2 separate regions of the Homo sapiens genome follow, and region 2 is linked to region 1. Evidence: fine-mapped expression QTL. A gene starts in region 1. The other region holds a variant in brackets. All regions are shown on one strand. Distances are from middle to middle. Region 1 holds the start of ACRBP (acrosin binding protein). Region 2 holds the start of LOC105369631 (a long non-coding RNA gene).

Region 1 (14,727 bases):
TTCTTCCAATATTAAAACATTTGGGGCCGGGTGCGGTGGCTTACGCCTGTAATCCCAGCACTTTGGGAGGCAGAGGCGGGTGAGTCTCCTGAGATAAGGAGTTTGAGATCAGCCTGGCCCATATGGTGAAACCCTGTCTCTGCTAAAAATACAAAAATTAGTCGGGTGTGGTGGCGCATGCCAGTAATCCCAGCTACTCAGGAGGCTGATGCAGGAGAATCGCTTGAACCTGGGAGGTGGAGGTTGCAGTGAGCTGAAATCACACTACTGCACTCCAGCCTGGGCAACACAGTGAGACTTGGTCTCAAAAAAAAATAAATAAAATAAAATAAAACATCTGGGAGACCGGGTGCCGTGGCTCATGTCTGTAATCCCAGTACTTTGGGAGGCCGAGGCGGGCAGATCACTTGAGATCAGAACTTCGAGACCAGCCTGGCCAACATGGTGAAACCACATCTCTACTAAAAATGCAAAAATTAGCCAGATGTGGTGGCGCACACCTGTAGTCCCAGCTACTTGGGAGACTGAGGCACGAGAATCCCTTGAACCCACGAGGCAGAGGTTGAGGTGAGCCAAGATCGTGCCACTGCACACCAGCCTGGGCAACAGAGCGTGACTCCGTCTCAAAACAAAAAAACGTGTTTGGAGCAATATCTAGGATGGACAAACAGGAAAAAAAGAAGTAATGGAAAATGAAAGAAGTTGCAATGATGAGCCAAATAGGATGGGCAGCCTGGCTGCAGTGGCTCACACCTGGAATCCCAACACTTTGGGAGGCTGAGGCAGGTGGATCATTTGACCAGGAGTTCAAGACCAGCCTGGGCAATATAGTGAGACCTCATCTCTAGAAATAATTTTTTTAAAAAAATTATCAGGGTGTAGTGGCATGTGCCTGTGGTCCCAGCTACTCCAGAGGCTGAAATGGGAGATCATTTGAGCTCAGAGGTTGAGGCTGCAGTGTGATCCATGATCATGCCACTGCACTCCATCCAACCTGGGCAATAGAGTGAGACCCTGTCTCAAAAAAAAAAAAAAAGAAAAATAGAGTGAGCAGTAAGATAAGCAGAATTGTTACATGGATGTTGGAGTAAGGTCTAATTTTAAATTGTGTGATATACTCAACTACTCAGGAGGCGAAAAGATAGAATCACTTGAGGACAGGAGTTGGAGGTCAGCCTAGGCAACAAACATAAGAGAGAACCTGCGCCTGCCTCTAAAAATAAATAGATTAGGCCAGGCATGGTAGCTCACCCCCAATAATCCCAGCACTTTGGGAGGCTGAAGCAGGCAGATTGCTTGACCCAGGAGTTCGAGACCAGCCTGGGTAACGTGGAAAAAGCCTGTCTCTACAAAAAAATAGAAAAAATTAGCCAGGCGTGGTGGTGCCTGAGATGGGAGGATCACCAGAGCTCAGGAAGTTGAGGCTGCAGTGAGCCATGATTGTGCCACTGCACTCCAGCCTGGGCGACAAAGTGAGACCCTGTGTCAAAAAGAAAAAATACTAATAATTTTGAAATGTATGATATTGATGTACAGACTTGGAAACCAGCAACAGCAGATGACTCAGCCTGATTTGCGGCAGACAACTGCTGTGGGATGTTTTTGAGAAGGAAACAATGGCTTTTGAGACAAAATTCAAGAAGCAGCAAGCCCTTCAAAGAAGCATCTTCAAACATGGACAAAAATACACTTCATATTAATGTGGTGTGCAAAGGATCCCTTGCTGTGTTTCAGTAATTTAAATTCCAACTATGATAGCAATGTTTTCAGCACCTTGAAAGGACCTTTAAAGCAAATATTGTCAGTATGTTCCATTACTTGAGTGCATGGCACAGTACCTCTGAACATTCAGTACTTTTTAGTTGGAAGGTTATGCTAATCAATGGAAAAGGTCCAAAGAACAAAAGGAAGAAATGTGTTTCACCTAGCCACTCAGGGGCCATTGTGACCAGGCCTCTGTCTCTGTTGTAGACCTGAAGGCTGAAATTGACAAGTTGGCCACTGAGTATATGAGTAGTGCCCGCAGCCTGAGCTCCGAGGAAAAATTGGCCCTTCTCAAACAGATCCAGGAAGCCTATGGCAAGTGCAAGGAATTTGGTGACGACAAGGTGCAGCTTGCCATGCAGACCTATGAGATGGTATGGCCCTGTTCATGGCTCCCCACCTACTTCCCATCTAATCCTCAGGGTCTTAGACCCCTCCTTCAACTGTGTTGGGATCTGTTTGGGGTCTGTGAGATCCATAAACTCTGCCTTAACCTATTTTCTTTAATTGGAGATAGTTTTGTACCTCTCCTTTCTCCTTCCTTTCCACCCAGGTGGACAAACACATTCGGCGGCTGGACACAGACCTGGCCCGTTTTGAGGCTGATCTCAAGGAGAAACAGATTGAGTCAAGTGACTATGACAGCTCTTCCAGCAAAGGCAAAAAGAGTGAGGAGGGGGCGGGGCTGTGAGAGGTGGGGCGAGGACTGAAAGGGAGAAGAAGTCAGCTCTTCATCTGGTGGGAAGTTTGGCACCAGGTTGGAAAGGGGGAGAGAAGAGGACTTAACCCATCTTTCTGTCTCCCTGCCTTCTGGCTTTCTCCCTCTTCCCTAGAAGGCCGGACTCAAAAGGAGAAGAAAGCTGCTCGTGCTCGTTCCAAAGGGAAAAACTCGGATGAAGAAGCCCCCAAGACTGCCCAGAAGAAGTTAAAGCTCGTGCGCACGTGAGTGATTCAGGGAGCCCTTTGCCGGATGACATCCTCTTCTCTCCCGGTGCCCCACTCCCAGCCTGCACCGCCCCCTGCCGCTTTCTATATGTCTGCGCCAAGAACTCTTCTTATCATTTTGGTATCTGCTGGAGAAGCCACAAATCATTTGCCCTACCAGGATCTCCTGCCACCTCTGAAAGCCTCAGGCTTTAGCTTCCCTTCCTGTAGATGACACTTTCTCTTCCTCTTGGCATGCAGAAGTCCTGAGTATGGGATGCCCTCAGTGACCTTTGGCAGTGTCCACCCCTCTGATGTGTTGGATATGCCTGTGGATCCCAACGAACCCACCTATTGCCTTTGTCACCAGGTCTCCTATGGAGAGATGATTGGCTGTGACAACCCTGATGTGAGAAACATTTTGCCTTAGGATGGGGGGTTGTGAGGGGCATGAAGGGAGTGGGTACAAGAGGGAAAATCCCACAGTTGAGTACTGGGACTTCAGAATAGAAGAAAGATGGGCTGGACGTAGTAGCTCTTGCCTGAAATCCCAGCACTTTGGGAGGCTGAGGCGGGCAGATCACGTGAGGTCAGGAGTTTGAGACCAGCCTGGCCAACATAGTGTAACCCCTTCTCTACTAAAAATACAAAAATTAGCTGAGCATAGTGGCACACGACTGTCATCCCAGCTACTCGGGAGGCTGAGGCGAGAGGCAGGAGAATTGCTTGAACCTAGGAGGCAGAGGTTGCAGTGAGCTGAGATCACGCCACCACACTCTAACCTGGGCGACAAGAGCAAGACTCTGTCTCAAAAAAAAAAAAAAAAAAAAAGCCTGAAAGCCTGGCGCTGTGGCTCACGCCTGTAATCCCAGCACTTTGGGAGGCCAAGGTGAGCAGATCACTTGAGATCAGGAGTTCGAGACTGGCCTGGCCAACACGGTGAAACCCCGTCTCCACTAAAAATACAAAAATTAGCCAGGCATGATAGCCTGTGCCTGTAATCTCAGCTGCTTGGGAGGCTGAGGCAGGAGAATAGCTTGAACTCGGGAGGCGGGGGTTGCAGTGAGCTGAGATCATGTCATTGCATTCCAGCCTGGGCAACAGAGTGAGACTCTGCCTCAAAAAGAAAAAAAGAATAGAAGGAAGATGGTGGGAACTGGTTGGCCTTGGGACTTCCAAGAATTCTCCAAAAGGATGGAGTAAAGGACAGGATGTTCCTAAGGAATCTGGAGGGGCTTTCTCTCCTTCCTCTGGCCCTTCCTGGCCCCTGACTACTTCTTTCTTCCTCTTCCAGTGTTCCATTGAGTGGTTCCATTTTGCCTGTGTGGGGCTGACAACCAAGCCTCGGGGGAAATGGTAAGTGGCAGGAGTTGGAGGGTCCCTAAGTTGAGTGGTCAAGGGCATTCTCCCTTTCACTCACTTTTCTCTCCCCTTCTCTGTTTCAGGTTTTGCCCACGCTGCTCCCAAGAACGGAAGAAGAAATAGATAAGGGCCTTGGATTCCAACACAGTTTCTTCCACATCCCCTGACTTGGGCTAGTGGGCAGAGGAATGCCTGTGCTGGGGCCAGGGGTTCAGGGAGGAGTGGATGGCACAGTGCTGTCATCCCTTCTCCTCCCCTCTCCCCACTCCCGGTGCTGAGGCTGCATCAGACCCTGGTAGGGAGGGGTGCCGCAGCCACTAACGGTATGTGCTCTCCTTCAGCCCTCTCCCTTCGGAGGGACGTGGTCTTGCCCACTGTCCTTTTGCCTCCATGCTGAGGTCGGTGCTGTATTTCAGAGGGAGGGTCCTTTTCATTCTCCTTGCTTTGTATTTAAGGACTGGGGCATAGCATGGGGGCAGTCCCCCAGACCTCTTCATTCCCCCTCCTGTGGTGAGGGCTAGGTGTGATCAACACTTTTCTTCTCCATTCCCTTCCTGCTTTTTTCATGGTGGGGGATCCACCAGGTCATCTAGGCTCTGGCCCTAGTTGAAGGGGCACCCCTTCCTCTGTGCCAAGAGGATTCATCCTGGGAGAGGGGGCAAGGTGGAATGCAGATAACTCACATGTAAAAGGAACTTGGGTAGGTAAATAAAAGCTATACATGTTGGCCTGCTGTGTTTATTGTAGAGACACTGTTTTAGTAAACATGCTGAGCATTCATTTTGCGTCCTCTGGGTTGGATGCAATGTGAGAGGATGGCATGCCAGAATTAGGACACGACATGAAACCAGAGTGGTGCCTCTGTCCGAGAACTTGTAAGTTCTCAACTTGGGAAAGACAGAGGTGCTGGAGGGTAGGCCTCAGACCAGGGGGTCTCCAAAACTTTGTAAATCATGCATCTTTTCTCCATAAAACATCTTTCACTTAATTTCCAATAAATGATGTATTTGTGCTATACATACGTACTGCTATACTATACATTAGCTTGACTTCTTTTTTTTTTTCCTTTGAGGCGAAGTCTCACTCTGTTGCCAGGCTGGAGTGCAGTGGCGTGATCTTGGCTCACTGCAGTCTCCGCCTCCGGGTTCAAGTGATTCTCCTGCCTCAGTCTTACAAGTAGCTGGGACTACAGGCACATGCTACCACGCCCAGCTAATTTTGTATTTTTAGTAGAGACAGGGTTTCACCGTGTTGGCCAGGATGGTCTCCATCTCTTGACCTCATGATCTGCCTGCCTTGGCCTCCCAAAGTGCTGGGATTACAGGCGTGAGCCACAGCACCCAAGCTGATTTCTTTTTTTCATTTTTTAAAATTTTTTTTAAAGTAGGCCAGGCCCGGTAGCTCACGCCTGTAATCCCAACACTTTGGGAGGCCAAGGGAGGTGGATCACCTGAGGTCAGGAGTTCAAGACTAGCCTGGCCAACATGGCGAAACCCGGTCTCGGCCAAAAATACAAAAATTAGCTGGGCGTGGTCATGGGTGCCTGTAATCCCAGCTACTCGAGAGGGTGAGGCAGGAGAATCGCTTGAACCTGGGAGGCAGAGGTTGCAGTGAGCTGAGATTGTACCACTGCACTCCAGCCTGGGCGATAGAGTGAGACTCCGTCTCAAAAAAATAAATAGGCTGGGTGCGGTGGCTCACACCTGTAATCCCAGCACTCTGGGAGGTTGAGGTGGGTGGATCACCTGAGGTCCGGAGTTCGAGGCCAGTCTGGCCAACATGTTAAAACCCCATCTCTACTAAAAATACAAAAATTAGCCAGATGTGGTGGCATGTGCCTATAATCCTAGCTACTTGGGAGGTTGAGGCAGGAGAATCACTTGAACCCAGGAGGCAGAGATTGCACTGTGCTGAGACCAGCCATAATTTTTGTATTTTTAGTAGAGACTGGGTTTCACCCTTTTTTTTTTTTTGAGATGGAGTCTCACTCTGTCATGCAGGCTGGAGTGCAGTGGCGTGATTTCGGCTCACTGCAACCTCCATCTCCCGAGTTCAAGCAATTCTCCTGCCTCAGCCTCCCGAGTAGCTGGGACTACAGGCACATGCCACCACGCCTGGCTAATTTTTTGTATTTTTAGTAGAGACAGGGTTTCACCGTGTTAGCTAGGATGGTCTTGATCTCCTGACCTCGTGATCTGCCTGCCTTGGTCTCCCAAAGTGCTAGGATTACAGGCATGAGCCATCGCACCGGCCAAGTTTCACCATTTTGGCCAGGCTGGTCTCAAACTCCTGGCCTCAAGAGATCCACCCTCCTTGGCCTCCCAAAGTGCTGGAATTCCAGGAATGAGCCACAGTGCCTGGTCTCTATTTTATTAATTTATTTTATTTTATTTTATTTTTGAGACAGGGTCTCACTTTGTCACCCAGGCTGGAGCACAGTGGTGAGATCTCAGCTCACTGCAGCCTTGACCTCTGAAGACTCAGGTGATCCTCCTACCTCAGCCTCCCCAAGTAGTAAGTGGGACAACAGGCGCACACCACCACACCTGACAATTTTTGTATTTTTTGTAGAGACAGGGTTTCGCCATGTTGCCCAGGCTGGTCTGGAACTCCTGGGCTCAAGGAATCCACCCGCCTTGACTTCCCAAATGCTGGGATTACAGGCGTGAGCCACCAAGTCTGGCCCAAGACAATTTCTTGTTTTATTTTTCTTTTTTACTTTTGCTTTTGGGTGGGGACAGGGTCTCACTTTGTCACCCAGGCTGGAGAGCAGTGGCCCGATTGCACCTCACTGCAGCCTTGGCCTCATGGGCTCAAGCGATCCTCCCATCTCAGCCCCCCAAGAAACTGGGACTACAGGCACGTGCCACCACGCTTGGCTAATTTTTTGTACTTTTTGTAGAGACGAGGTTTCGCCCTGTTGCCCAGGCTGGAATTTCTCATTTTAAACACAAAACAGATACAAAAGCAAAAGTTCTCCTCCCATACCTCAGTGGACTGTCTTACTCGATTCTCCCTTGGAAACCACTTTCGTAGACCACTGAGCCACCCTCTTGTTTTCCCCTTGGACCCATTTTGCTCATGGAGGCGCCCTGTCTAGTTCCTACCCAGATAGGCCTTGACTTGGTTTTGCACATTCTATCTCTGCCTGCGCTTAGCTCTAGACCTCACGACCTGTTTGTTGGGCGAGTTGCTTCCCTAAGCCCCGATTTCTCATCTGTAAAACGAATGATAGTGTATCTACCTTATGGGATTCCTATGGCAATTACGTAAGGTAGTGCATGTAAAGATGCTAAGTGGCTGGCTACGGTGGCTCACACCTGTAATCCCAGCACTTTGGGAGGCCGAGGTGGGCAGATCATTTGAAGTCAGGAGTTCAAGACCAGCCTGGCCAACATGGTGAAACCCAGTCTCTACTAAAAATACAAAAATTAGGCCGGGCATGGTGGCTCACGCCTGTAATCCCAGCACTTTGGGAGGCCGAGGTGGGCGGATCACAAGGTCAAGAGATCGAGACCATCTGGCCAGCATGGTGAAATACCATCTCTACTAAAAATACAAAAATTAGCTGGGCGTGGTGGCGTGCACCTATAGTCCCAGCTACTCGGGAGGCTGAGGCAGGAGAATCACTTGAACCTGGGACGCCGAGGTTGTAGTGAGCCGAGATCGCACCACTGCACTCCAGCCTGGGCGACAGAGTAGGACTCCGTCTCAAAAAAAAAAGAAAAAGACGCTAAGTGAAGGTAGCTGTTTGCCATTCCTACCATCTGGATGGGCTCTGGCCACTTTAGGGCCCTGAGAGCCCGGCTGTCGAGGCCCCGCCCCGGCCCGCTCTTTGTGACGCGTGGGCGGTGCCCGCGTGCGCCCCGCCCCGCGCCTGCGGCTCTCTCTGCGGCTTGGCCCGTTAGAGGCGGCTTGTGTCCACGGGACGCGGGCGGATCTTCTCCGGCCATGAGGAAGCCAGCCGCTGGCTTCCTTCCCTCACTCCTGAAGGGTGAGAGGTTTACACCTGCTCCAACAGACTCTCCCCGGGCTAGTCCTCTCCCTCCCGAGAGCTCTGCTTTTACGGTTTCTGGATCGCTTCCTCATGGTGGTCGCGCTGGGTCGGCTCCCTAGGTCCTGGGATACTCCCATCTCCCCCCGCCCGCGGCCGGACCTTTGCCTCTGTCTCTAGACTCCCCCCGCCCTGGTCAGCAGGGATAACCCTCACCCCGTTCCTAATTTGCCAGTCTGGGTCTGTCTGTCCTGGTCTCGGAGCGGGTTTTGGGGTTCGGTCCTTCCATCATCCGTTCGCCCGCTCCGCAGTGCTGCTCCTGCCTCTGGCACCTGCCGCAGCCCAGGATTCGACTCAGGCCTCCACTCCAGGCAGCCCTCTCTCTCCTACCGAATACGAACGCTTCTTCGCACTGCTGACTCCAACCTGGAAGGCAGAGACTACCTGCCGTCTCCGTGCAACCCACGGCTGCCGGAATCCCACACTCGTCCAGCTGGACCAATATGAAAACCACGGCTTAGTGCCCGATGGTGAGGGCCAGACTAGGGGGGAAACCGAGGCACCCAGAGTGTTCACCCAAACCTCAGGGCAAAAACCCCTGTGCTCATGTGAGGCGGGGAAGGGCATGGCTGGCACCACACCATGAGCTCGTACTCTCCACCCTCCCCATGGCGTGGAGTCCATTGCCCACAGCCCCACCCCAAGCTCCCCACGGGTTCATCTTCTCCACCCCTGCCCTTTCTCAGGTGCTGTCTGCTCCAACCTCCCTTATGCCTCCTGGTTTGAGTCTTTCTGCCAGTTCACTCACTACCGTTGCTCCAACCACGTCTACTATGCCAAGGTGAGGCCCAGGACAAAGGTTGGATTTGGTGCCCCAGGGCCAAGGGAGAGGCGGCAGCAGTGGGGAGTTGAGGAAGGGTTCCAGGAGAGTCATCCTTAGCTCCTCCTTCCCTGCCATTTTGCCAGTCATTTACCCAGATTATATATGAATACAGTCTCACCTTGGATATTCAGATTGAACAATTCTGTTACTGCAAGAAAAGTAGAGAAGAGACTGGGCATGGTGGCTCATGCCTGTAATCTCAGCACTTTGGGAGCCCGAGATGGGCAGATCACCTGAAGTCAGGAGTTCGAGACCAGCCTGGCCAACATGGTGAAACCCCGTTTCTACTAAAAATACAAAAAAAAAAAAAAAAAATAGCCGGGCTTGGTGATGGGCGCCTGTAATCCCAGCTACTCGGGAGGCTGAGGCAGGAGAATTGCTTGAACCCGGGAGGCAAAGGTTGCAGTAAGCCGAGATCATGCCACTGCACCCTATCCTGAGTGGCAGAGCAAGACTGTGTCTCAAAAAAAAACAACAACAGGGACGAGTGCGGTGGCTCACGCCTGTAATCCCAGCACTTTGGGAGGCCGAGGCAGGCAGATCATGAGGTCAGGAGATCGAGACCATCCTGGCTAACACGGTGAAACTCTGTCTCTACTAAAAATACAAAAAATTAGCTGGGCGTGGTGGCAGGCGCCTGTAGTCCCAGCTACTCGAGAGACTGAGGCAGGAGAATGGCGTGAACCCGGGAGGTGGGGCTTGCAGTGAGCCGAGATCGCGCCACTGCACTCCAGCCTGGGTGACAGAGTGAGACTCCGTCTCAAAAAAAAAAAACAAAAAAAACAAACCCAAAACCCAAACAAAAAGAAGTAGGGAAGAGGGATGGGAAGAGGCAAAGAGATAAGCCCTTACGTTTCTTCGAACAGGTCAGTGATTTTGAGTCAAATGCAAAAGTGACGGCAGGGATGTGGCCCAGACAAACAGAGATTCATCTTCTGAAGGGACCCTTTCTCAGGTCTAGAGGGTTCCAGCAGGGACCATGTCCCTTTATCCCTGCCTAGAAACTGAGAGATAAGACATGCTGGAAAAGGGGTTGAAGAACCAGCTGGAGCAGAAGTCTGCCCTTTAGGAAAGGCTTTCCCATTTTCCTTCTCTTCCTGCAGAGAGTCCTGTGTTCCCAGCCAGTCTCTATTCTCTCACCTAACACTCTCAAGGAGATAGAAGCTTCAGCTGAAGTCTCACCCACCACGATGACCTCCCCCATCTCACCCCACTTCACAGGTGAGACCCTCTCAGCAGCCGGGAGACCACCAGCTACTCCCACAACTCCCAGAGCCCACAACGTAAGGCATCCATGGCAGGGAAATGGGAAGCATGTTGGGCGGGAAGGGGGCGCCAGCAGACAGCTGTTTACACAAAGGAGTGTCAGCTTTTTATGAATACAAGTTAGGGCTCTCCTGGACCAGAATCTCTTCTGCCATTACTTACAATTTTGCCCTGAATCCATTTTTCCCAATTCCAGAGACATTGTTGCATTACAAAGGACCTCTAGGCCCTTTATAAGCTAATGTCTTCACTTTAGAAAGGATTGACTGCTAGCTACTCAGCATACTTGGTGTTTCCTAAGGGAGAGGGACAAATGGTGGTATTTGAGGTGGAAGTTAGGGAAGGAGGAGTGCTTGCCAGGGAGGTGGGAAGGTGATGCATACCACCAGCCTTACAGTTGCCGTGGTAATGTTCTTTTAGTTTAATACTTATGTTCTTTTCTGTGTTTTTCTGTGTGTATAAGTGTGACTTGGTCTGCTTTGTTTATGTGTGTGTCCCTCTGTGAACAAAGACACTCAGGGGCTAGAAGCCTGACTGTCTCTCTCCCTTCTCTCTAAACCCTGCTGTAGTGACAGAACGCCAGACCTTCCAGCCCTGGCCTGAGAGGCTCAGCAACAACGTGGAAGAGCTCCTACAATCCTCCTTGTCCCTGGGAGGCCAGGAGCAAGCGCCAGAGCACAAGCAGGAGCAAGGAGTGGAGCACAGGCAGGAGCCGACACAAGAACACAAGCAGGAAGAGGGGCAGAAACAGGAAGAGCAAGAAGAGGAACAGGAAGAGGAGGGAAAGCAGGAAGAAGGACAGGGGACTAAGGAGGGACGGGAGGCTGTGTCTCAGCTGCAGACAGACTCAGAGCCCAAGTTTCACTCTGAATCTCTATCTTCTAACCCTTCCTCTTTTGCTCCCCGGGTACGAGAAGTAGAGTCTACTCCTATGATAATGGAGAACATCCAGGAGCTCATTCGATCAGCCCAGGAAATAGATGAAATGAATGAAATATATGATGAGAACTCCTACTGGAGAAACCAAAACCCTGGCAGGTATAGGAAGTTTTGACTCTGTCATCCACCCTGCCCTCCCTTCTGCCTTTCTTGGGAGTGAGAAGCCCATTTTCCTAGCTTCAGCCTCCAGATCCACTCAGACCTGTCTGGACTTCAGGCACAGCTAGCAACTGCCTCACCAATTCTGTGCCCATTGTTGGCTTAAGCACTGCTCAAATGCTTATTCTCTATGTAAGCCCTGTACCTGGAGCTACCAGACTTGGGTTCTGGTCTTGTCTCTGCCCTGTTTAGCATTGCAATCCTGAGAAAGTAATTTCTCCTTTCGGGTCCTCAGTTCCTCATTTGAAAAATGAGGCGATTTGTCCAGAGGCCTCTAAGGCCCCATGCTAAGCATGCTGAATGTGTGTGACCAAAGCAGACACTAAGGGAAGGGGAAGAGACTGGATGTAGTTTCCTGCCCGGGCCACCTGGCCCAGCCCCACCCTCAGTGCTGTCTTCTTGCAGCCTCCTGCAGCTGCCCCACACAGAGGCCTTGCTGGTGCTGTGCTATTCGATCGTGGAGAATACCTGCATCATAACCCCCACAGCCAAGGCCTGGAAGTACATGGAGGAGGAGATCCTTGGTTTCGGGAAGTCGGTATGCCAGCCATACTGTCTAATGGATACATGCCACTGGGCATCCTCTTGGCCAGGCACTGTGCTAGGCTATGGGAGTGGAGGATGGGCAGGAGAAGCATGAGACATAGCTGGAGAGATTCTCTCCAAGTGGGACTCTTTTCTTAGGAAGGGCATTACCAGTCCACTTTAAAGGAGGAAGGCTCAAGACCCAGTCTGAAATGCAATCCAGTCCAGAATTCATTCTTCACCTCTTCACCTCCCTGAGTTGCCAGGCTTCCAGATTTCACTCCTTTTTTTTTTGAGACAGGGTCTTACTCTATTACTCAGGCTGGAGGGGAGTGGTGCGATCATGGCTTACTGCAGCCTTGACCACCTGGGCTCAAGTGATCCTCCTCTCATCTCAGCCTCCCGAGTAGCTGGGACTATAGGCATGTGTCACCATGCCTGGCTAAATTTTTTTTTATTTTTTGTAGAGATGGGGTCTCCCTTTGTTGCCCATGTTTGTCTAGAACTCCTGGGCTCAACCAATCCTCCTGCCTCGGCCTCCCAAAATGCTGGGATTACAGGCATGAGCCACCATGCCCAGCCTTGAGTCAACTCTTGATTCTTGATCCACCTCACCATCTTCCTAGCTTTGCCTTAGATGCAGCTCTTCTTCTTTCCAGAGAGTTCATAGAACCCATTCCAGGGAATCTGTAAAGAGATTCCAGTCTCAATGTGTCCTCAACAACCAGCAAGTCTACTCCCAGGAAAATATACCTTAGATTTTCACAAATAATACAATTTAGCAAACATTTTTCGAGAGCTCAGATACCATCCATTCATCTGTTTGTTCAACAAATACTGATTGGGAGGACAAGAATAACATAAAAATGAATGAGGTAGAGCATACTTGTCCTATATAAATCCAGACTTTCTATAAAGCTCAAGTAACTAGGATAATGTGAAATTGGGATGGTGACAGACAAATAGACTACCCAGAGCCCAGAAACAGATTTTCTGTGACTGATTTGTGGGAAAAGAGGAACTCCCATTTATGGTACTGGAATGATGGGTTAACCATGAGGAAAAAATGAAATTGAATTTCTATCTTACACCCAAAGATTTGGGTGTCCCCTGCAGATAGATGATCACCTAGGAGTAGATACACAAAAAACATTTCAAGATGATTTAAAGACTTAAGGGTTTCACACCATATACAAAAATTAACTCACAATGGATCAAAGACCTAAATGTAAGACCTAAAAGTGCCTGTAAAACTCTTAGAATAAAACTTAGATGTATCTTGTCATGAAAAAAAATACTGATTGGGGACAAACTCTACTAGATATTTAAGATGTTAGCAGTATGTGCAATAGAGCCAGTCCTCTGTCCTCTTGGAATCTAGGGCAGGAGAGAGACAAGGAAATATGCAGGATGGTGTGATGGGATCAGTGCTGTAGCAGGGATAGGCACAAAGTACAGAGAGCAGATGGGGTGGGTTGGGGACAACTCTCCATGTTTGGGAGGATCAGAGGGTGCTTCCAAGAAGAACTGATGTTTAAACTGAGACCTGAAGATAAAAGAAGTGAATCCAGGCAAAAGAAGGGGCTTGGTAGAAGATTCCTGATAGAGAATAGTATGTGCAAAGGCTATGATGCAAAGAAGAGTAGAAATTTCTTTTGTATTTTTTTGTAGAGACAGGGTCTCGCCATGTTGCCCAGGCTGATCTCAAACTCCTGGGCTCATGGAATCCATCTCAGCCACTTCCACTCAGCTGGAATTACAGGCATGAGCCACCGTGCCTGGCCCAAAGAAGAGGTAGAAATTTCATGAGTGAAATTAGTATGCTAACAATGAGCATACTGTTTCTGCTCTTAAGGGGCCAAGAACCCATGAGGGAGTTAATATGGATACAGTAATATTACAAAGGGAGTGTGGTCGGTGAGGTTCTTAAACAAAATGCAAGAAGTTCAGGGTTTTATGGAGGGAGCTCACTGGATTTGATGGCTTAGATAAGAGGACAGTAAGGAGGGAGTCCCTTTTACCTGGAGCAGAGCAGCAGGAGACAGAGTCAAAGAGATCAACAGGGTCATGACGCAAAAACTCTTGAATGGCAACATGAGCATTTGCACTGAATTTGATAGGAAAGGGGAATCCAATAAAGATTTCTGGCCAGGGACATGATGCCTCCGTTATGTGGGAGGAGCAGGCAAGGTGCCATAGGAGATTGCATGCACTGTGACAGGCTGTGCCCATGGGGGAGGAAGGAGGACCGTGGGATTGACTAAAGATACTGCTTAGTACGATCTCCTGCTAGTGCTGAGGAAGCTGAGGGCAGAACCCAGCTGGGAGATTGGTAACTCCACTCTGAAGAATAGCTTCCAAGAACTTGGAGGTTTCCAACCCAGGTACTTGGATAGAGCATAGGTTTTAGAGTTGGAAGGACCTGGACCCATGTCCCAGCTTCCCCATCTGTTAGATAAGTGGCTTTGAGCAACTTACTCAACCTCACTGAGAGTCAGTTTCCTTGTCAGTAAATGAGAGTAATATTAGTATCTCTGCTGTTATAGGGTTGTCGTGAAAACTAAATGAAATGAGAGCATGTGTAGCCATAGTGCTGGCACTGGGTCACCTCTTTGTAAATATTAGCATTATCATTAGCAGAGGTGGCAGGGGAGGGTTATGAGTTCTTTTCAGATAGGCTAAGTTGGGGTATCTGTAAGATCACCCAATCACAGACATCTGTCAGGCACTTGGCAATGAGGATTTGGAGCCCAAGAGAGAGATCAGAGCTGGTGATAAAGATTTGGGTGTCACTCGCAGATAGATGATTACCTAGGAGTAGATAAATCATCCAGGAAGAGGGTGAAGAAATAGCTGAGGCAAGGTCCTTGAGGAACCCTTGGGGAGGAGGCCAAGTAGAAAACCCAGAGAA
Region 2 (14,727 bases), 30 kb after region 1:
AGCCTCCTGAGTAGCTGGGACTACAGGCGCCTGCCACCACGCCCGGCTAATTTTTTGCATTTTTAAAAGAGACGAGATTTCACCGTGTTAGCCAGGATGGTCTCAATCTCCTGACCTCGTGATCCGCCTGCCTCGGCCTCCCAAAGTGCTGGGATTACCAGCGTGAACCACCACGCCCGGCCTAAACAGTTCCTTTTGAAAGTAATAAGCTCGGTGTCTTGGGATAATTGCTCAGGGTCTCAGACAACTTCTCTCCCTAAGATGACATCTAGACACCCATGTTCACAGTGGCATTATTCACAATAGCCAAAAGGTGGAAAGAATCCAAGTATTCACTGACAGATGAATGGATGAGCAAAACATTATACAATGAAATACATTATTCAGCTATAAAAATGAAATTCCAGGCCAGGTGCGGTGGCTCACATCTGTAATCCCAGCACTTTGGGAGGCCGAGCCGGGTGGATCACCTGAGGTCAGGAGATCGAGACCAGCCTGACCAACAGGGAGAAACCTCGTCTCTACTAAAAATACAAAATTAGCCAGGCGTGGTGGCGCATGCCTGTAATCCCAGCTACTTGGGAGGCTGAGGCAGGAGAATCGCTTGAACCCTGGAAGCAGAGGTTGCGGTGAGCCGAGATCGTGCCATTGCACTCCAGCCTGCGCAACAAGAGCGAAACTAGGTCTCAAAGAAAAAAACGGAAAAGAAAAAAAAAGAAATTCCTTTACATACTACAACATGAATAGATCTTGGAAACATTATGCTAAGTGAAATAAACCAGACACAAAAGGACAAATATTGTATGATTCCACTCATATGAGGTATCTAGAATAGGCAAATTCATTGAGACAGAAAGTAGACTAGAACCAGAAGCTGAATGGGGTGCGGTGGGTAGTACTGCTTAATGACTGCAGAGTTGTTGCTTGGTTGATGAAAAAGTTCTATTTCTGGAAACAGAGAGTGGTGACGGTTAAGCAACACTGTCTTGGTCTTTGTTGTTGTTGTTGTTGTTTTTGAGACGGACTCTCACTCTGTCTCCCAGGCCGGAGTGCGATGGATTAGACCTGCTAGGGGAGCACTTGGCAAAACTCAACCCACAGGGCCTTCCCCTGCCTAGCAAGACTGTGCTGTCAAATTTATTCACATGTGGCTCTGGTCAAGACTAGCATGCAATCAGCCTATGAGGGCATTATTATATTATTATTCCCATTTTACAGATGAAGAAACTGAGAAGTCAAACCATTAAGCTGAACCCAGTTTGCTTTGACCACAAATCCAGCCCTCACAGGCGCAGTGATGCATGTGATGCGTAAGGCTGGGATGTTGTTCTGTATTTGGGAGTTTTGTTTGCTTGTTTGCTTGTCTGACATGGAGTCTCACTCTGTCACCCAGGCTGGAGTGCAGTGGCGTGATCTCGGCTCACTGCAACCTCCGCCTCCCGGGTTCAAGGACTCTCCTGCTGCAGCCTCCCATGTACTCAAAGAGTTTGACCTTTATTCTTTGGATAATGAGGAGCTAGCCTAGCACCTGGTCCAAGGAGGTGCTCCATAAGACCACCTATTGATTTGTGCTTATTATCTGTCTCCCTCCAATGGAATGTAAAGGAGGTGGGGGCAAAGACTTTTTGCTTTGTTCCCTGCTGTGAACATGCCTGGAACTTTCTATGAGCTCAGTAAGCAAGGAAAGAAGGAAGGAAGAGATCTTGAGATAGTAACAGCAACCTAAGCGTTTTACACACGTCATCTTAATCTCCAAACCTCATGAATTCTCTCTCTCTCTCTCTCATTTTTTGAGACAGAGTCTCGCTCTGTCACCCAGGCTGGAGTGCAGTGGCGTGATCTCGACTCATTGCAACCTCTGCCTCCTGGATTCAATCAATTCTCATGCCTTAGCCTACTGAGGAGCTGGGATTACAAGTGCACGCCACCATACCCGGCTAATCTTTGTATTTTTAGTAGAGGCAAGATTTTGTCATGTTGGCCAGGTTGGTCTTCAACTCCTGGCCTCAAGTAATCCACCCACATCAGCCTCCCAAAGTGCTGAGATCACAGGCATGAGGTACCATGCAGCCGCCTTTTTTTTTTTTTGAGATGGAGTCTCGTTTTGTTACCCAGGCTGGAGGGCAGTGGTACGATGTCAGCTCACTGCAACCTCCGCCTCCTGGGTTCAAGTGATTCTCCTGTGTGAGCCTCCTGAGTAGCTGGGACTACAGGTGCATGCCACCACATCTGGCTAATTTTTGTATTTTTAGTAGAGACAGGGTTTTGCCAGGTTGGCCAGGCTGATCTCGAACTCCTGACCTCAGGTGATCTGCCCGCCTCAGTCTCCCAAAGTGCTGGATTACAGGTGTGGGCCACTACGCCGGCCCTGGCCCTCTTTCTTTCTTTTTTGAGATGGGCTCACTCTGTCACCCAGGCAGGAGTGCAGTGGTGGGCTTGAGGCTCACTGCACTGCAGCCTCCACCTCCCTGGAGTCAAGTGATTCTCTCACCTCAGCCTCACAAGTAGCTGGGACTACGGGCATGTGCCACAATGCCTGGCTAATTTTTTAATTTTTTAATATTTTTTATTTTATTTTTTTTTGAGACAGAGTCTTGCTCTGTCACCCAGGCCGGAGTGCAATGGTGTGATCTCGGCTCACTGCAACCTCTGCTCAAGCAATTCTCCCTGCCTCAGCCTCCTGAGTAGCTGGGATTACAGGCGCCTGCCACCACGCCCGGCTAATTTTTTTTTTTTTTTAGTAGAGACAGGATTTTGCCATGTTGGCCAGGATGGTCTCAACCTCCTGACCTCAGGTGATCCGCCCACCTCAGCCTCCCAAAGTGCTCGGATTACAGATGTGAGCCACCACGCCCAGCCTTATTTTTATTTTTTATTTTATTTTATTTATTTATTTTGAGATGGAGTTTCACTCTTGTTGCCCAGGCTGGAGTGCAATGGCGCGATCTTGGCTCACTGCAAACTCCACCCCCCAGGTTCAAGCAATTCTCCTGTCTCAGCCCCCTGAGTAGCTGGGATTACAGGCGCCCGCCCCTATGCCAGGCTAATTTTTGGTATTTTTTTTAGTAGAGATGGGGTTTCACCATGTTGGCCAAGCTGGTCTCGAACTCCTGACCTCAGGTGATCCACCTGCCTCGGCCTCCCAAAGTGCTGGGATTACAGGCGTGAGCCACCGCGCCTGGCTATTTTTATTTTTTGAGACAGAGTTTCACTTTTGTTGTCCAGGCTGGAGTGCAATGGCACAGTCTCAGCTCACTGCAACCTCTGCCTCCTGGTTTCAAGCGATTCTCCTGTCTCAGCCTCCCGAGTAGCTGGGATTACAGGTGTGCACCACCACGCCCAGCTAATTTTTGTATTTTTAGTAGAGATGGGGTTTCACCATATTGGACAGGTTGGTCTCGAACTCCTGACCTCAGGTAATCCACCCGCCTCGGCCTCCCAAAATGCTGGGATTACAGGTGTGAGCCACTGCACCTGGCCCTGTATTTTTTTGTAGAGATGGGGTTTCGCCGTGTTGCCCAGGCTGGTCCCCAACTCCTAGGTTCAAGCAATTGGTCTGCCTTGGCCTCCCAAAGTGCCAGGATTACAGGTGTAAGCCATTGCACCCAGCCAAGATTAATTTTTTTGAAGTCACACAACTAGGCAAGTTAGCAAAACCAAGATTTAAACCTAGGCATCCGAGTCCCTGCCTTCAAACCTGGGTGTTTAACACTATACTATATAGTCCTGCCGTAGGAACCTATTCTAGCCCAATGGCAGACTTGAGGCTGAGAAAAGATTCAGAAGGCCTGCCAGTGGAGCTAAACATTTGTGTGTGCAGCCCTGTCTCTGTATAACTTCCGGCTTGCCTTCCTATTCCAGGTCTCTGCTGCTGATGAAGCTGTGACCAAACGCACCCAACCCTTGGCAGCCATCTGTCCCTGCAGCCATAGCCCACATTCCCATGACCTCCCTCTGCTTGTTTTGGGACCATGTCTGTACAGCCTCTAGGCCCCAGCCCCGGAGGTGAATGCCATGCCATGATTCTGGTGTGCTCCATGGCATCCCCAGCCTAGCTCCCAATCCCACTTTGGCACGATGTTAGCCAACAGCTCCTCAACCAACAGTTCTGTTCTCCCGTGTCCTGACTACCGACCTACCCACCGCCTGCACTTGGTGGTCTACAGCTTGGTGCTGGCTGCCGGGCTCCCCCTCAACGCGCTAGCCCTCTGGGTCTTCCTGCGCGCGCTGCGCGTGCACTCGGTGGTGAGCGTGTACATGTGTAACCTGGCGGCCAGCGACCTGCTCTTCACCCTCTCGCTGCCCGTTCGTCTCTCCTACTACGCACTGCACCACTGGCCCTTCCCCGACCTCCTGTGCCAGACGACGGGCGCCATCTTCCAGATGAACATGTACGGCAGCTGCATCTTCCTGATGCTCATCAACGTGGACCGCTACGCCGCCATCGTGCACCCGCTGCGACTGCGCCACCTGCGGCGGCCCCGCGTGGCGCGGCTGCTCTGCCTGGGCGTGTGGGCGCTCATCCTGGTGTTTGCCGTGCCCGCCGCCCGCGTGCACAGGCCCTCGCGTTGCCGCTACCGGGACCTCGAGGTGCGCCTATGCTTCGAGAGCTTCAGCGACGAGCTGTGGAAAGGCAGGCTGCTGCCCCTCGTGCTGCTGGCCGAGGCGCTGGGCTTCCTGCTGCCCCTGGCGGCGGTGGTCTACTCGTCGGGCCGAGTCTTCTGGACGCTGGCGCGCCCCGACGCCACGCAGAGCCAGCGGCGGCGGAAGACCGTGCGCCTCCTGCTGGCTAACCTCGTCATCTTCCTGCTGTGCTTCGTGCCCTACAACAGCACGCTGGCGGTCTACGGGCTGCTGCGGAGCAAGCTGGTGGCGGCCAGCGTGCCTGCCCGCGATCGCGTGCGCGGGGTGCTGATGGTGATGGTGCTGCTGGCCGGCGCCAACTGCGTGCTGGACCCGCTGGTGTACTACTTTAGCGCCGAGGGCTTCCGCAACACCCTGCGCGGCCTGGGCACTCCGCACCGGGCCAGGACCTCGGCCACCAACGGGACGCGGGCGGCGCTCGCGCAATCCGAAAGGTCCGCCGTCACCACCGACGCCACCAGGCCGGATGCCGCCAGTCAGGGGCTGCTCCGACCCTCCGACTCCCACTCTCTGTCTTCCTTCACACAGTGTCCCCAGGATTCCGCCCTCTGAACACACATGCCATTGCGCTGTCCGTGCCCGACTCCCAACGCCTCTCGTTCTGGGAGGCTTACAGGGTGTACACACAAGAAGGTGGGCTGGGCACTTGGACCTTTGGGTGGCAATTCCAGCTTAGCAACGCAGAAGAGTACAAAGTGTGGAAGCCAGGGCCCAGGGAAGGCAGTGCTGCTGGAAATGGCTTCTTTAAACTGTGAGCACGCAGAGCACCCCTTCTCCAGCGGTGGGAAGTGATGCAGAGAGCCCACCCGTGCAGAGGGCAGAAGAGGACGAAATGCCTTTGGGTGGGCAGGGCATTAAACTGCTAAAAGCTGGTTAGATGGAACAGAAAATGGGCATTCTGGATCTAAACCGCCACAGGGGCCTGAGAGCTGAAGAGCACCAGGTTTGGTGGACAAAGCTACTGAGATGCCTGTTCATCTGCTGACTTCTGTCTAGGCTCATGGATGCCACCCCCTTTCATTTCGGCCTAGGCTTCCCCTGCTCACCACTGAGGCCTAATACAAGAGTTCCTATGGACAGAACTACATTCTTTCTCGCATAGTGACTTGTGACAATTTAGACTTGGCATCCAGCATGGGATAGTTGGGGCAAGGCAAAACTAACTTAGAGTTTCCCCCTCAACAACATCCAAGTCCAAACCCTTTTTAGGTTATCCTTTCTTCCATCACATCCCCTTTTCCAGGCCTCCTCCATTTTAGGTCCTTAATATTCTTTCTTTTTCTCTCTCTCTCGTTTCTCTCTTCTCTCTCCTCTCCTCTCCTCTCTCTTCTCCTCTTCTCTCTCTCTCCCTCTCTCTCCTTTGTCCAGAGTAAGGATAAAATTCTTTCTACTAAAGCACTGGTTCTCAAACTTTTTGGTCTCAGACCCCACTCTTAGAAATTGAGGATCTCAAAGAGCTTTGCTTATATTTTGTTCTTTTGATACTTACCATACTAGAAATTAAAGCGAATACATTTTTAAAATAAATACACATGCACACATTACATTAGCCATGGGAGCAATAATGTCACCACACACACTTCATGAAGCCTCTGGAAAACTCTACAGTATACTTGTGAGAGAATGAGAGTGAAAGGGACAAATAACATCTGTGTAGCAGTATTATGAAAATAGCTTGACCTCGTGGACTTCCTCAGAGGGTTGGTCCCTGGATCACACTTTGAGAACCATACTTGTCCTGAAGTATTGGAGTTCATGTCTAACTTCTTCCCAGGGCATTATGTACAGTGCTTTTTATTACTGTGGGGAGAGGGCAGTGCTAAATAAATTAATCACTACTGATAGTCTTCATGGCTCAGGGTTTTCCTGCGGCCCTAGGAGTAGTACATAAAATGGAACACTACCCTGGGCATATCAGAGCAGCAGCCCTGGGGCAGGGATGGAGACTGGGGGGTGGAACTAGTCATACACTCAGGCAGAGGGGATGGGGCTTCTCTGGGGGAGGGAAAAGGGAACTGTGCCACAGCCAGGAGAGAAAAGTTTATGGGGAAGTTAAGAGTGAGATGGGAGGACAGGAATAGGCTGTCCATTCTCAGCACGCTGGAAGCAAGGGAAATGGGCCACCTACTAGTCCTTCCCTCTTTTTTTTTTTTTGTTGAGACAGGGTCTCGCACTGTCACCTGGGCTGGAGTGCAATGGCGCGATCTCAGCACACTGCAACCTCTGCCTCCCGGGTTCATAGGATTCTCCTGCCTCAGCCTCCCAAGTAGCTGGGATTACAGGTGCACACCACCACACCCGGCTAATTTTTTGTATTTTTAGTAGTGATAGGGTTTCACTATGTTGGCCAGACTGGTCTCGAACTCCTGACCTCAGGTGAATCTGCCTGCGTCCCAAAGTGCTGGGATTACAGGCATGAGCCATTGTGCCCGGCTATTCCTTCCCTCTTCACCCAAGTTGGGGGCTCGGAGGGGCTGCAGAGTTGGCACTTGTGGACATCTTCAGACCCTGGCATTACTGAAGGAGCTGTTGCCCTGTGTGCGTCCTATAGCATTTCTGTCCCTATGTCTCAATACTGTATTTTTATCTGTGTGTGCACGCACTCTGTGTGTGTGAGAGAATGTGTGTGTGTGTGTGTGTGAGAGAGAGAGAGAGAG[A/G]GGTGTGTGTGTGTGTGTGTGTGTGTGTGTCAGGGTTCTCCGTTTGTGTCTGTTTTAGTCCAGGGTAGCCTTTTGTGTGTGCCTTTATGCCAAGTGCTCCAGATGGTGATTTACAGGGGTAAAATGACCCCTGGTGGCCAAATCAGAGAACTGACCCAGATTCCTCAGGGATAGCCATGAAATCTGGGCCTTTCTCCATCTGGGTGGAGATTGGAGCCTGGAGCCCGGCACTTACCTCCAGCCGCTCTGGAAGAGGCCTGGTGATTAGCACCTGCTCCATCTCTCTTCATCTTCAGGGTTCAAGACCTGTGCCCTTCCTGTCCTGAGAGCACTGGCAGCGCCAAACCTCGTAGTCCAAAATCTTAGCACTTTGCCCTATTCAAACAGAATCAAACACAATTTTTAAAGATTACTTGAGTACTTTTATAGGCAGGTACGTGAGTTCCAAAGTAATTACAACTCACGGCATGTATCACTTTTCAACATACTATATAATTTATTTATTCTAATTTTTATAGTTTATCATCTCCGCCACCCCGTCCTATATCCTAGGTAGAATGTAAGTTCTGTGGGGGCATGGATTTTTGCTTGATTCTCTGATGATCCCCAGCATCTAAAACAGTGCCTGGCACAGAGAAAGTGCTCAGTAAATATTTGTTGAATGAATGAACAGTCAGATCTTGCTGTGAAGTAGTTTACAATCTAGTGAGAACCATAGAACAAGTAAACAAAAACTATAATGCCAGGCAGAAAACACAAGAATGCAGGGTAAGGTGCTGGCAGTTGGTTTAGTGGGCAATGGGAAGCCCACGGAGGCTCCTGAGTGAGGTTTTGCTCACACTGACAAACTGTGTGGAATAAACTGTAGGAAAATGATGGGGGGGGAAAGTCTAAAGAAACGAAAGACTGGTCAGGGGGCCATTACAATAGCCCAGGACAAGTGTGGCCATGGCCTGTGGAAGAGCTAGATGGCAATACATTGTCTCTGATGTGAAATCTCTGGTGTCAAAGCCCTGGTGGACTATTTCCCCCCATTCAGATATCCAAAGGCTTTCCATCAAGAGAACAGAGAGGCAAGAATAGATTAGGCCATTTTCATAGGGTTCCCCAAGACTAAGAGAGCAATATGAAGTCCAGAGCCCTCACCCCATGCCCTGAAGCTGCTCTATTTAAGGTCTATGAAAATCCAAAGATAGAGAAGGGGAAAATCTTAGACAGACGGGAATGAGCATTAGCAGTTTTTGTTGTTGTTGTTGTTTTTGAAATGGAGTTTCACTCTTGTTGCCCAGACTGGAGTGCAGTTGGTGGTCTCTGCTCACTGCAACCTCCGCCTCCCAGGTTCCAGCTATTCTCCTGCCTCAGCCTCCTGAGTAGCTGGGATTACAGGCGCCCGCCACCATGCCCGGCTAATTTTTGTATTTTTAGTAGAGACAGGGTTTCACCATGTTGACCAGGCTGGTCTTGAACTCCTGATCTCAGGTGATCCACCCACCTCGGCCTCCCAAAGTGCTGGGATTACAGGCGTGAGCCACTGCACCCGGCCTTTTAGCAGGTTTAAAAAATACTCTTCTGTATGCCAAGATTTCAAGTTAGCGCTTAAGATGCATTATCTTCTTTATTATATTAAATAATATAATCTGAGTTGGAGATGATGTTCATCCCTTTTACAGATGAAACACCCTGGAGAATCTGAGGTCTTAAGGTCACACAACTAGAAAGTGGCTCAGTCTGTAATTTGGCTCCCAAACTCCTGCTTTTTGCAGTATACCTCTCCTTCCTGGGACTTTCTTTCCTGTTACATACCACCCCGGGTTTCCTTCCTTCTCCTCCCCTCCTCATGTAGCCACCTCTTTCAACTGCCTGGCTTGCCTTGAATCTGCTGCATCATCTTGGTCCTCCTCTTCCCAGTTCTTCCTCCATGCCCCTAATCCACTTGCCCTACAGCACACCCGCCCCTTCCCTCTCCGTTTGTCTCAGCCCCCTGTTTATTGAACACCATGTGGCTGTAGGGGTTGGGGAGGTTGAGAGCTGGCTCACTCAAGGTTCTAATTGTGTTGGGCCCTAAAATACACCACATCGAGGGCCCACACACAGGCAGAATGCCTTAAGACTTCAGGCAGTTGGCCATGACTCCCCTCCCCCAGCCTGTGATGTACCCTACATCTCCAAGGCAGCACTCCTGATTGTGTACACTGAGCAGGGACCATCCCTTGGTTCACCCTTCCTCAAAGTCTGTCTCCTCGGTAGGATGGTCCCTCCACATGGTGAGAGGAGCTGGGAAGAGTAACAATCATTATTATTATTTTTTTTTTTTTGAGATCGAGTCTTGCTCTGTCACCCAGGCTGGAGTGCAGTGGCACGATCTCGGCTCACTGCAACTTCTGCCTCCCAAGTTCAAGTGATTCTCCTGCCTCAGCCTCCCGAGTAGCTGGGACTACAGGCACGTGCCACCACACCCAGCTGATTGTTTTTATTTTTAGTACAGACAGGGTTTCACCAGGTTAGCCAGGATGGTCTCCGTCTCCTGACCTCATGATCCGCCCACCTCGGCCTCCCAAAATGCTGGGATTACAGGCATGAGCCACCGCTCCTGGCCTTAATTTTTTTTTTTTTTTTTTTTTTTGAGACAAGGTCTTGCTCTGTCATCCATGCTGGAGTGCAGTGGTGCCATCTCGGCTCACTGCAACCTCCCCCTCCCAGATTCAAGTGATTCTCCTGCCTCAGCCTCCTTAGTAGCTGGAATTACAGGCGTGCGTCACCACGCCCAGCTAATTTTCGTATTTTTAGTAGAGACGGGGTTTTACCATGTTGGCCATGCTGGTTTTGAACTCCTGGCCTCATGTGATGTGCCTGACTCTGCCTCCCAGAGTGCTGGGATTACAGGTGTGAGCTACCACACCCGGCCACAATCATTAATCTTAAAACAAATTTAGGAGAGCCAGGGCAGAGGTAAGGGATATCAAAGGAGGGCAGAGATTCTTCCTTCTTGGTCCTCAACCATCCTGAAGATGGAATTCCCTCGAGGCTGCCACCTGGAGTCCCATGGAAGAAACGGGGAACGGAAGGTTAATCTCACACAGGAAGGCCCTGGACAAGTTGGGGTAATTCTCACCATGTTGTCCTTGCCAGAGGAGCACGGAAAGTCCTGGAAGGTGAACTTTCTCACTCAGGGTTTGGGGAATCCCAAAGGCTCCAGAACTTTGGAATCAAACAAATCTGGGCATTAATTTCAACTCTCTCACTTCTTGGCAATGTGGCTTCAACAAATTTCTTGACCTCTCTGAGCCTCTGTTTTCTCCCATTTCTCTGTGAAATGGGGCTCATAATATCCACTTATTGGGTTATTGTGAGGGTCAAGGAGCCCACCTTTGAAAGGTACTCTAGATGCCCCATAAGTGGGAGCTCCTTCTTTCCAACAAGAGCATGGGGAGGCGAGGCCATTGATCAACTCTGCCAGTGATGCCCAAGGGGAGTGTTTCCCGAAGACCTGAAGGGCTCTTTCCTCACCCAGACAGAGCTCTGCCAGCAATCAGACGTAGGACCACGGGAGGTGGTGAGCAAGGCAGGCTGGGCAGGTTTCCACGGTGCTAGGTCAAGCAGGCAGTCTTTAGGGGCAGCGACTGGCCTGTTGCCCTCTGGGGGCACTCTCTCCCCACTAGGCCCATGTCCATCCCACAGACCAAGGAGGAGGTAGGAAAGTGCAAGACAGGGGGAAGCTGGCTGGAGAACCAAGCAATGGAGAAAGGGCAAGGGAGGAGGCTGGAGGGGAAGCGAGGGCCCAGGCAGGCACGGGGTGGGGCTGGGAGAGGGGCCCAGGGCAGGAGGGCGGGAGAAAGCCTGGGAGGGAAAGCGCCGACCAGGGAGGGAGGAGGGACAGGGAGGGAGGCCTGCGGCGCTGACACAGCCTCGATGTGTGGAACTGGCTGGGGTTTGGCCCACAGGTCAGGCGTCTGGCAGTATTATGGGATGGAGAGGCCTTAGGAGACAGGGAGAGTATTATGGGCTGGAACAGCCTTAGGAGACTGGGGAATATTATGGGTTGGTGAGGCCCGGCTCCAACTGGAGGCGGGAGGAAGGGGTGCGGGGCGGGAAGGGGGGGTGGTGGTGGAAGGGAGTATTATGGGCTGGAGGCCTCCTGCGACCAGAGGCAAGAGTATTATGGGCTGGCAAGGCCTTCGGTGGCCAGAGGGGGGAGCAGCGGGGGATGGCACCGGCTGCATGTGACTGAGGGGGGGCCAAGTTGGGGGGGGTGGTGAGTGGGGGTGGGGGAGCTTATTATGGGATAGCTCTTTGTACCTACTGCGGGGACTGCTTCTCCAGAAGATATTATGGGATGTCGTGTGTGGGAGGGGGAGTGGGGCTGGGGGGATTATTATGGGATGGTGGTGCAGAATGGGGAGGGCCTGAGGAGCTCTTCTCCAGCCCCCCCACCTCCTCAACCCTTACTCGCCTACCATCCTTTCTAAGGTCACCGTCCTCTCTCAGACTCCCCAAGAGGAACACCTGAAACCCATCTCCCTACACACACAGACTTTGGGCACCTCAACCCATCCCGGGCTTCTCCCCTAACTAGCAGCCACCTCCGGGGTGCTGAGGAGAAAAGTAGCCCCTGGCGAATGGGGAGAAAGCCCTAAAGCAGGGTGGTGGTGGCCAGTGGATCACACCTTCCACCTGCACGACGGCCTCCTCTGCACCCTAGCCCCTTATACCACCGTCCTTCCCCTTCTCCCTGCATCCCACAAAGTGGGGGCCCTGGATCTTTCTCCCCTCCCCCCTCCCCTCCATTTCCTCTCCAGCTCCCTCCACAGCCGTAACCAGTAAAACAGGCGGCCAGCTATTATGGGATGGCTGCTCCCAGCAGCTCTGCAGGGAGGGGGCGGTCACCGCGGAATGTCTCTTGTGGGTGGCTATTATGGGATGGCCGCCTCTCTTTTTTTGGGGGGGTAAGGCTAGCGAGGAGGATTATTATGGGATGTGCCCTGCACAGCTGGGTGGGGCTGTCCAGGAGAGGTGAAACTCTAGGGAGGGGTGGGGAGGGGGAGGGAAGGAAGAGGGAGGGAAGGAGCTGGGGAGGGTAGGGTGAGCCCTGGAGTCGGACCTGAGGCCTGGCAGGAGTAACTGGCTGGAGAGGTTTCTTTGGTGACAGCTGTTTGAAGGGGCCCCTGGGGCAGGCTCCAGCGAGCCAAATCTGAACCCTGGACACCTGGGTCCTTTAAACAGCTTGTGCGCTACAGGGTTGCCCTGTGAGTCCGGGGCCTGCAGAGCTGCACTGCAAATGAGAACTGAGATGTTCTGGCCGGGTGGCATACCAAAGGGAGTAGTAGTCATGGATGGCGATAGTACCCGTCTCCCTTCCATCTTTGTCTTCCTGGGTTTGAGCCTGGGGACCATAGCTCAGGTTGGGGGATTGTGCACGGAGCACTTTGCTTAGGTTGGGGGGTTGTGCACGGAGCACTTTGCTTAGGTTGGGGGGTTGTGCACGGAGCGCTTTGCTACCTTGCAGTCACACCCAAAAAACAGATAGTAGGTTGCCTCCTGAGATACAAACACCTGGCATGTCACCCCCAAGCCCCACGTGATCTGCATCCTGTCTAGCCTTTGGAGTGCACTGTCACTGTGGCTTTGCTTCCCTCGTTGTCTCCCAAAATCCCCTTTTCAGACAGAGCAGGAGAACACTGTGGCCCCTTGGACCTCTTATGAACAGAGTTTTTCAGGTTCACACAAAACAGAGGTGTAAGGAGAGGAATTATAGAGCAAATGCTAAAAACTCCATGAACAACCCACTCTGAGTGTTGTTCTAGGTTCTTCTGTACCATGGGATGAAAACAGAACTCTAAGGTAACTGGCTAGAGAGGCTGCCCTCCTGGGTGCATTAATTAGGAGATTATGCCACCCTTAGTCTCCCTGGGCCAGTCATGCTAGTGGTTTATTTATAATTTATCTGGGAGGGTAGCACGGGGCTAGAGGAGGGAGGGGAAGCGTAGAAGCATAAGGACTACAAAGCAACACACCAGCACACACCTCCGAGCCCTTTCTGGAACTCAAGAAGAGAGGAAGGGATTTTAACTTTCTCCTTGTTGTGGTGTTAGGGAGAGGTGGGGAGCAAGAGCAGCAAAGGAAGAAGTGGGTAGAACCTACAGGAATAGGGACACAGGGTGAGTAGTGGACAAAGGATATATGGATAAATAAAATGTGGATATTTTTAGTCACAGGCAGGAGGCTGTGACTACCCAAACGCTCTCTTACTGGTTTATATGGACAGATCACTGTGGAAATGAGAGTATGGGTATGGGCAGATGGAGATATTGCAGAAGGGAATTTGAGGCCCAGAGACAGGCTGGATCCCCTGGAGAAATGAGGGTAGAAGAGCGCACAATAGGCATCTGGCAGCCCTCTGTAGGAAGGAGAAACTTCCCTGAAAGGAGGTGTCCCCACATCATGGTATCTGAAAAGAGCTGCCTCCTCACCCCCCATTGTGGAACACAAGTTTCATTCTTAGTACTCAGAGTAAGTATGGGAGAGGGCTTGGGTAAGTAAATGGGGCCCAGTCTTGATGTCGAGAGCATTTAACGAGGGAAACTGGAAGCCTTGCAGAACGGGGGAGAATGGCCCGCTTGCCACAATGAGTGCAGCAAGAGGGTGGGCCAGGGAGCTGAAGGGAAGGTTGGAAAAAGAAAACACCTACTTCAAAGGTGACAGGGAGCTTTTGACAGGACCTGATGTCTTTGATGCCAAAAACTCCAGTCCTAAGATGAGGAGAGTTAAATGTGGAATGCTAGTGGGTCTACAGAGTCAGCCAGGAGCTAGCGGAAGACTTGTCTGCATCCCTGGTGCTCTGCTCAGGAGCAGGGGGATTGTAATTCCCTGAGGCAAGCTCTTGCCTTCCCTGAACTCATTTCTTTGTACCAGTTCTCCAGTCCCTTGGATCCTAGAGAAGGGGAGAGCCATCTGGCCAGGCCTTCCTCTAGGAAAATGAGATGAGAAGGGTAATGCAGAGATGGCATGAGGTTCATCCCACTCACTACTGGTTAGTAAAGGGCCCTTTCTACAAGGAAGTCCAAGTTTCTTTTCAACTCGTCCCACTTCCATAGGTCTTGGACCCATGCAAAAAAGGTACATGAGCAGAGGGAGACATTATCCTTGGCCTGGGGTTAGGGCAGCAAGGCAGTGGTGCTGGGACATTGGTTTTCACTCAGGTCCTGAATCTCTGGGAGTCAGGAAAAGGGAAAAGTGACAGGCTGATGGGTTAGGTTTTCTGAGGGCCAAAGGGTTTTAAGATTGGGCTCTTTCCTGGCCAGGCGCAGTGGCTCACGCCTGTAATCCCAGCACTTTGGGAGGCCGAGGCGGGCGGATCACCTGAGTTTGGGCGTTCGAGACCAGCCTGACCAATATGGAGAAACCCCGTCTCTACTAAAAATACAAAATT

What was found. PIP is the estimated chance that this variant, and not a neighbour inherited with it, causes the effect.
Region 2: its variant is fine-mapped to the expression of ACRBP in whole blood (INTERVAL, PIP 0.92).

The regions. Positions count from the first base shown.
Region 1 is chr12:6,640,641-6,655,367 of GRCh38, reverse strand. ACRBP (acrosin binding protein) reads left to right here and starts at 7,936. Exons shown (of 10, transcript NM_032489.3): 1 at 7,936-8,044; 2 at 8,356-8,574; 3 at 8,791-8,885; 4 at 10,031-10,148; 5 at 10,763-11,231; 6 at 11,697-11,829. The coding sequence starts at 8,002. ING4 (inhibitor of growth family member 4) reads left to right here. Exons shown (of 8, transcript NM_016162.4): 3 at 1,972-2,138; 4 at 2,318-2,432; 5 at 2,601-2,706; 6 at 2,950-3,097; 7 at 3,983-4,044; 8 at 4,134-5,067. The coding sequence ends at 4,173. RefSeq lists enhancers at 8,009-8,078, 8,002-8,515.
Region 2 is chr12:6,610,599-6,625,325 of GRCh38, reverse strand. It overlaps LPAR5 (lysophosphatidic acid receptor 5), which reads left to right. Exons shown (of 2, transcript NM_020400.6): 2 at 3,862-6,491. The coding sequence starts at 4,078. The coding sequence ends at 5,196. LOC105369631 (a long non-coding RNA gene) reads right to left here and starts at 11,240. Exons shown (of 4, transcript XR_007063192.1): 1 at 10,809-11,240; 2 at 10,414-10,499; 3 at 7,537-7,676. RefSeq lists enhancers at 4,423-4,943, 4,944-5,465, a silencer at 11,493-11,562 and a cis regulatory region at 10,803-12,545. The variant A/G (reference allele first, on the strand shown) is at 7,302.